Linked DNA regions of Homo sapiens: all the other regions are linked to region 1. The links come from fine-mapping of genetic effects on gene expression. A gene starts in region 1. Each other region holds a variant in brackets. All regions are shown on one strand. Distances are between the middles of the regions.

Region 1 (2,761 bases):
AATAACCAAAAAAAAAGAAAGAAAGAAAGAAAAAGCCACTCAGATTTTAAAATGGGTAAAGGACTTAAAGAGATATTTCTCCAAAGAAGATATACAAGTGGCCACTAAGCACATGAAAGGATGCACAACATCACTAATCATTAGGGAAAAGCAAATCGAAACTACAATGAAGTATCACCTCACACCCATTAGGATGGCTATGTAAAAAACCCCAGAAAATAACAAGTGTTGGTGAGGATGTGGAGAAACTGGAACCCCCATGTACTGTTGGTGTGCACCTGTATCTATAAAATGGAATATTATTTAGCCTTAAAAAGGAAGGAAATTCTAATATATGCTGCGATATGGATGAACCTTGAAGACCTTATGCTAAGTGAAATAAGTCAGTGACAAAAATGCAAATACTGTATGATTCTACTTACATGAGATACCTAGAGTAGTCAAAATCATAGAGACATAAAATAGTAGAATGGTGGTTGCCAAGGGCTGGGGAAAGGGGGAAAAGGGGAGTTGCTTAACTGGTATAGAGACTTAGCTTGGCAAGATGAGAAGAATTCTAGAGATCTATTGCACAACAATGTGAACATACTTAACACAACTGAACTCTATACTTAAAAAGTGGTTTGGACGGTAAATTTCATATTTCCGTGTATTTTACCACATCTTTATAAAAGGGAGGCACGGACTAGTTTCCAGGTTTCATTCACATAAACATTGCAATAAAACATTTACCTTGATGCCCAGGAGGTAAATATCCCCCTCCACACCAGCACAAAGGCAGGCAAGGACCCCCAGTGGCTTTTTCCTCATGATTGGGTGGGGCAAGGGAGAGAAAAAGATGCCTCGAAACGAACTTGGAGATCTCGTGGCTCCTGGAGCAGGCCACTTACCTTGTGGGCACATCAGGGTATTGAGTGTGTCGGAAAACACTTTCCAGCTCCTCCACCTGCAACAGCGTGAACTTCGTGCGCCGAGTTCGTGGCTGCATGTTCTCGGGCTGCGGACCCTCCATGGCCGCCTGGGCCGGCTCCTCCGGCGGGGGCTGCGGCTGCTGCCGAGGCTCCTGGTTTCCACCGCCGCCCTCGGGGATCATGCCGCCATCGCGGTTCATGCCGTTCTCGTGGTTCACACCGCCCTCAGGGTTCATATTACCCATGAGGCCTGGAGCTCCTTGGCCAACATGGCCTTCTGCGCTTGATGCTGCCCCCAGCTGAGGTGTGGGGCTTATTTTTACCTGGTATACACTCAGGCAGTAGAACACGGTGTCGTGGACGAGCGAACGCGCCATGGCTGGAGCGCTGCGCCCCTGCACAAACTCCGTGGCGTCTGCAGCTGGAGTGGGGGTTAGAGGGTGGAGCTAGTTCCTGTTCTCATGCTTGGTATTGGTTACAGTTGCAATGAGTGGGACTTGCTTATGCGCACAAGCAAGAGAGGGAATGGAGAGGAGTGGGGGGATGGGAAGTTGGGGGGTGCGGGTGGGGAGTGGGGGTGTTGCAGGTGGGAGTGGGGGGTTGTGAGTGTGGGGTGGGGTGCAGGTGGGGATGGGGGTGTGGGTGGAGGGTGGGGGGTGCACAGTGAGGGTGGGGGTTGCGGGTGAGGGTAGGGGTTGTGGGTTGGGGTGGGGGTTGCCGGTGGGGGTACATGGTGGGGGTGGGGGTAGCGGGTGGAGATGGGAGGTGTGGGTGGAGGGTGCGTGGTGGGGGTAGGGGTTGTGGGTGGGGGTGAGGGGTGTGGTATGGGTCGTGGGTGGGGGTGGCAGTTGAGGGTGGAGTGGGGTGGCCAAAACACAGGGGCAGTGTGGAGAAGAAAAGGGCCAATAGGAGGCATATATGTATGCAACATGGGGCCCCAGCTTGCAGCTTTGCTGACTACACCCTACTCGGGCCTAGTTATTACCCTGAGGAAAGCTGATTTGGGGGCTCAGAGGGGAGGTGAGATCTCACGGTGACCATAGGACGCCTTGAGTAAAAGTTTGGAGAATATCTCATGGCCTGACCCTCCATATTTGGCAGCATGCACAGGGCGCGGGCTATTAATTAAGCAGAAATGATTGACTGGGGGCTGCTTGTTCAGAGTTCCAGCAAAGGCACTGAAAGCAGAGCTGCCATGCTCTCTTCAGTGCTGGGATCGGGATCTTGGAGATGGGCATGCAGAGCATTCTGGGTGGTAAGATGTGCTCTGCAAGAAATCTAACGCACCCTTTGAGAAAGTCAACACAGAATAAACACGAGGCTGAATCTGTTAGCCTGAGACTGAATATCTTTGGCTATGCAAGAGAAACCTGTACTCATGGCAAAATGGAGTGCTATAAGGACAAGCAAAAAATAAATAAATAAATAAAATCGGGGATGGTATAGGAAGAGCACCAGTAAGGGCATACCTGCCAAAAATCTCCAATCTTGGGATGGAGATTTGGGATTTAAGGATATGCAGCTTACTGGATGTGGGGCCACTTCTGCTCCACAGAGCCTTGTAACTACACAGCCTTCCTACCACTGACCCCAATAAGCCCAATTACGAAGAAAAACCCTGAAGAGCCTGGTGCAGTGGCTCCTGCACTAGTCCCAGCTACTCAGGAGGCTGAGATGGGAGGATCACTTGAACCCAGGAGTTTGAGGCTGTGGTGAGCTAGAATCACATGGCAGCACTCCAGCCTGGGCAACAGACAGAGGCCCCTTTTCTTTAAAATAAATAATAAAATAAGAAATAAAATGAAAATGAAAGAAAGGAAAGCGCTAAGAGAGTCTGTCATGAGGAAGGG
Region 2 (2,761 bases), 920 kb before region 1:
ATCCCCACCCAAATCTCACCTTGAATCAATTGTAATTATGCTCACATGTCAAGGGCGGGGCCAGGTGGAGATAATTGAATCATGGGAGTGGTTTCCCCCATACTGTTCTCATGGTAGTGAATAAGTCTCACAAGATCTGATGGTTTTATAAATGGGAGTTCCCTTGCACAAGCTCTCTCTTGCCTACCACTATGTAAGACGTGACTTTGCTCATCATTGGCCTTCCAACATTATTGTGAGGCCTCCCCAGCCATGTGGAACTGTGAGTCCATTAAAATCTTTTTCCTTTATAAATTACCCAGTCTCAGGTATGTCTTTATTAGCAGCATGAGAACGGACTAATACAACCCACCCCCCACCCTCACACACACACACACACACACACACACACACACACACTTACTTAAAATAGATAACAGAGAGTCATCTGGAGTCTTGACCCTAGGCTTATTGCTGCCTCCACACAGATGCAAGGGCAGCATACAACCAAGGCACAGTTGGAGAGATGAGGCTTAGATAACCCCCCAGTCAGCCTCCTGGAATAAAGGAGGATTTCCAGGTGTCTGTCTGTCACTGGCCCCTTTGCCTTTGAGGGGACTCCAGTGGTTCCCCTTGTTTAACCACCTTTCCCCTCTACAATTATAGGAGGGACCCCTTGCCTCCCAACTGTTTAAGTGCTCAGTGCTAGAAACCTACTCTGTGTTGGCCCTGGGTTAAAAAGATAGGTAAGGCAAACAAGTGACAGACAATCCCAATACAGTTTGGCCAGGGATCTGAGAGAGAGAAAAGCCCCAGGAGACTGTGGGATCCCCAAGAAGGGGGCCTGGCCTAGCCTGGAAAGTCAGGGAAGGGGACCTGGAGGAGGTGGCATTTAAGCCAAGTTAGGAAAGAAGAATGAGAATGAGCAAGGCAAAGACTGCACTGGGCTGAGCTGGTCTGGGATAGGGCCAGAGAGGGGTTTAGAACAGATGGATGTGTGTGGAGGGCAGTGGTAACTCCAAGTTGTTGGGTACTGCCCTAGCTTGAACAGGAGCAATGAGAGATGGAGCAGAGTGATAGGCAGGGGCTTGCTCAAAAAAAGCCTTGTATGCCAAGGTCAGAATGACATTCTTTATACTGAAGAGTTGTAGGTCTTGAAGAACTCCTAGAAATGTTACTGGATAAACTCCGCTTGGTCATAGTGCATTATTCTTTTTATAAGTTGCTGAATCCCATCTGATAATATATTGTTGAGGATTTCTGAGTCTATATTCGTTAGAGATATTGGTCTGTAATTTGATTAATTGACTGACTGATGGACTGCTTGATTGATTGGTTTTTGGACTAGCTT[TG/T]TCTGTTTTTGGTATTAGGGTGATGCTGGCCTCATAAGGTAAGTTCTATTTTCTGAAATAAATTATGTAGAACTGCTGTTATTTTCTATTTAAATATTTGTTAAAATTTACCAATGAAGCCATCTGGGCCTGGGCTTTTCTTTGTGGAATGTCTTAAATAACTAATCCAATTTCTTTAATAATTATAGAGTTATTCAGGCTATTTAATTCATTTTGGGTAGTTTTAGTAGTTTGTGGTTTTCAAGGAATTGATCCATTCCATTTCATCTTTGTTTTTTTTTTTTATTGTTTGTTTGTTTGTTTGTTTTTTGAGACAGTCTGTCTCTGTTGCCCAGGCTGGAGTGCAGCAGCGCGATCTTGGCTCACTGCAAACTCCACTTCCTGGGTTCAACCAATCCTCGTGCCTCAGCCTCTTGAGTAGCTGGGATTGCAGACATGCACCACCACACCCGGCTAGTTTTTGTATTTTTTGTAGAGACAGGGTTTCACCATGTTGGCCAAGCTGGTCTCGAACTCCTGGCCTCAAGTGATCTACCTGCCTCAGCCTCCCAAAGTGTTGGGATTACAGGCGAGAGCCACCACGCCAGGCCCCATTTTGTCTTAATTGTCAAATTTATGTGTACAGTTGTTGGAAGTACTTCCTTATTATTCCTCTAAGGTCTTCAGTGCCTGTGTTGGCATCCCCTGTTTCATTCCTGGTACTGATCATTTGTGTCTTTCTTTTTTTCTTTGTCAGTGTTGCTAGAGATTTGTTATTTTCATTGATCTTTTCAAAGAATCTGTTTTTGGTTTCATTGTTTTTTCTGTTGTTTTTCTATTTTCAATTTCATTGATGTCTGCTCCTTATTATTTCCTTCTTTTGGTTTGCTTTGGGTTTATTTTACTCTGTAGGTTTTTCAGGTAGAAGCTTAGATTATTGATTTGAGATCTTTCTTCTTATATAAGCCTTTAATGCCATTGTAGGGGCAGAAAGGGGGTGATTCCTTTTCTCCCCATTTATAAAAGGTCATAGCCAACACCCCATAACAAAAAACAAGTTAACAAGAGAAAAACATAACAAATTTATTATGTGCACATGTGTGCATGGAAGTCATACAAAACATGAACTCAAAGAGGGACCAGATGGTTGAGGCTTAAATGCTCTCTTCATAGGGGAATGGGAAATGGATGAACAAATAGGCCCAATGCTCAGACAATGGTTTGTAAATGATTCTCCTTGGAAAGATGAGAGGCAGAACTGCACAGGAACCAAAGTTGTCTTATTATGCAAATAAAGTCTCTCAGATAATCTCTGGGAGCCGTTCTTAGAATCCATGAAGGTTTGTCTGGGCATGGTGATGACTCCCAGTCTCTTCTCTTCTCCAGTGGTTGATCTTTCCTGGTTATTTCATGAGATCCCTAGGGTGGAGGTCTTAAGACAATTGCATTTC
Region 3 (2,761 bases), 89 kb before region 1:
GATTACCACTGCAGGCTCAGGCAGCCTGCTTTTATTCCCTTATCTGGCCCCACCCACATCCTGCTGATTGGTTCATTTTACGGAGAGCTGATTGGTCTGTTTTACAGAGAGCTGATTGGTCCGTTTTGACAGGGTGCTGATTGGTGCGTTTACAATCCCTGAGCTAGACGCAAAAGTTCTCCAAGTCCCCACTAGATTAGCTACACACAGAGCACTGATTGGTGCATTCACAAACCTTGAGCCAGACACAGGGTGCTGATTGGTGTATTTACAATCCCTTAGCTAGACATAAAGGTTCTCCAAGTCCCCACTAGACTCAGGGCCCAGCTGGCTTCACCCAGTGGATCCCGCACCTGGGCGGCAGGTGGAGCTGCCCACCAGTCCCGCGCCGTGTGCCTGCACTCCTCATCCCTTGGGCGGTGGATGGGACTGGGTGCTGTGGAGCAGGAGGCGGCGCTCGTCGGGGAGGCTCGGGCCGCACAGGAGCCCACGGTGGAGGGGGGCTCAGGCATGGCAGGCTGCAGGTCCTGAGCCCTGCCCCGCGGGGAGGCAGCTGAGGTCCTGCGAAAATTCGAGAGGTCCTGCGAAAATTCGAGTGCAGCGCCGGCGGGCCGGCGCTGCTAGGGGACCCGGCGCACCCTCCACAGCTGCTGGCCCGGGTGCTAAGCCCGTCACTGCCCGGGGCCAGTGGCGCTGGCCGGCCGCTCTGAGTGCGGGGCAGGTTGAGCCCACGCCCACCCGGAACTCGCGCTGGCCCGCAAGCGCCTTACGCAGCCCCGGTTCCTGCCCGCGCATCTCCCTCCACACCTCCAGGCAAGCTGAGGGAGCCGGCTCCAGCCTCGGCCAGCCCAGAAAGGGGCTCCCACAGTGCAGTGGCAGGCTGAAGGGCTCCTCAAGCGTGGCCAGAGTGGGCGCCGAGGCCGAGGAGGCGCCGAGAGGGAGCGAAGGCTGCAGGGGCTGCCAGTACGCTGTCACCTCTCACTACCTTGCATGGATGGTGGAGCCATAGTGATTGGGTGACCATCCTGGCCTCACTGCCTGCTGTGTGACCTTGGCTTTTCTAATAATGTTCTTTGAGTATTTCAGATTTATCTCTGAGGTGAAATGTGCTTAATGAGGCCCCTGGAATCATTCTAAGACCCTTGTCCTTAGAAAGAAGCTAATGATCCTCTCAGTGTGTGGCTCGGAGGAAGTGACAAAATCATGACTTCCTGACATGATAAATGGTCCGCTGTTCTGTGGTCCAGCTTTCCTTTCAATGCTCAGTTGCTGGGCTGAAAAGACAACCATATTGACTCTAGAATGTCAGTTACAATGTCTGTCCTCACAAGGGAAGTCATGATCAAACTGAAACAAGCAAGGTGTTCCCATGCTAGATGCCAGAGACAGGTTTACCCGTGGGTGAATGATGCAGTTCTTGTCCATGGTATAGGATGGGATGGTGTGGTGTCAGGGGAGGGGGCA[A/G]GAGGGGCACTGGAAGTAAGAGAGTGGGAGAAGAGGAGGGGTCCCTGTCAAATTCCCCTCAATCCTGAGAGAGACACTTAGGAACAGAGTGTCTCTGCTCCCTCTGGATATTCCCGTGTATATTTTGAAGCCTGGGAGGCAGGATGGAGGACATCCTGCTGATGCCTGAAGGATGGCAAAGCAGAATAGAAGGATGCTCCCTTAACCCCATGACCGAGCCTCTGAATTAACCAGCTCCAGTGTTTAACCTATCTCTGGACTTATTTATTTTTTTATTTTAATTTCAACTTTATTAAAATACAGTGTCCCTTTTGATTTCATTTTTTTTTTTCAGAAGGAATTTCACTCTTGTTGCCCAGGCTGGAGTGCAATGGTGCGATTTTGGCTCACCGCAACCTCTGCCTCCCAGGTTCAAGCGATTCTCCTGCCTCAGTCTCCCAAGTAGCTGGGATTACAGGCATGCACCACCACGCCCAGCTAATTTTGTATTTTTAGTAGAGAGGGGGTTTCTCCATGTTGGTCAGGCTGGTCTCAAACTCTCGACCTCAGGTGATCCGCCTTTCTCAGCCTCCCAAAGTGCTGGGATTACAGGTGTGAGCCACTGCGCCCAGCCTACAGTGTCCCTTTTCTTGTGACAGTCTTTATCTAAAACACTGCAGCTGATCGCACACAAGAAAGCCCACCTGGGGAAAGTATTGGCCTCCCTGATTGGTGAACCATTTTTGCCAACAGCAGCAGGACAGAAAACATGAGAGTTGTCACAGAGACACAAATATGCTGAAATAAATAAAAAGATATCCCATGTTCATGTATTAAAAGACCTGATAGTGTTAAGATGGCAATACTGTTTAATTTGATCTACTCCCCAGATTGATTCAGTGAAATCTCTCAAAATCCCAGCTAACGTCATTTGGAAATTGACAAGCTGATCCTAAAATGTACTTGAACACTGAAGTGACCAAGAATTGCCAAAATAATCTTGAAAAAGTTAAACATTTAGAAGACTCACACTTCCTGATCTTAAAACACACTACAGAGCTACAGTAATCAAAACAATGGGATACTACCATAAGGATAAGCATATAGACCAATGGAATAGAATTTAGAGTCCAGGAATACACTCATATATGTATGGGTAATTGATTTTCAACATGGGCATTAAAGCCATTCAATGGGGAAAAATAATCTTTTTAAGAAATGGTTCTGGGAAAACTGGATATCCACATGCAAAAGAATGAAGTTGGACCCTGTATAACACCATATACAAAAATTAATTCAAAAGGAATAAAAACTTTAA

The links. PIP is the estimated chance that this variant, and not a neighbour inherited with it, causes the effect.
Region 2: its variant is fine-mapped to the expression of RHOXF1 in gastroesophageal junction (GTEx, PIP 0.96).
Region 3: its variant is fine-mapped to the expression of RHOXF1 in whole blood (TOPMed, PIP 0.97).

What each region holds. Positions count from the first base shown.
Region 1 is chrX:120,114,575-120,117,335 of GRCh38, forward strand. It overlaps RHOXF1 (Rhox homeobox family member 1), which reads right to left and starts at 1,339. Exons shown (of 3, transcript NM_139282.3): 1 at 891-1,339. The coding sequence starts at 1,288. All of the region lies in intron 1 of RHOXF1-AS1 (RHOXF1 antisense RNA 1), which reads left to right.
Region 2 is chrX:119,197,599-119,200,359 of GRCh38, forward strand. No RefSeq gene overlaps it. Among named protein-coding and RNA genes, the nearest start is that of PGRMC1, 37 kb to the right of the region's middle. The variant TG/T (reference allele first, on the strand shown) is at 1,331.
Region 3 is chrX:120,025,370-120,028,130 of GRCh38, forward strand. No RefSeq gene overlaps it. Among named protein-coding and RNA genes, the nearest start is that of RHOXF1-AS1, 9.5 kb to the right of the region's middle. The variant A/G (reference allele first, on the strand shown) is at 1,465.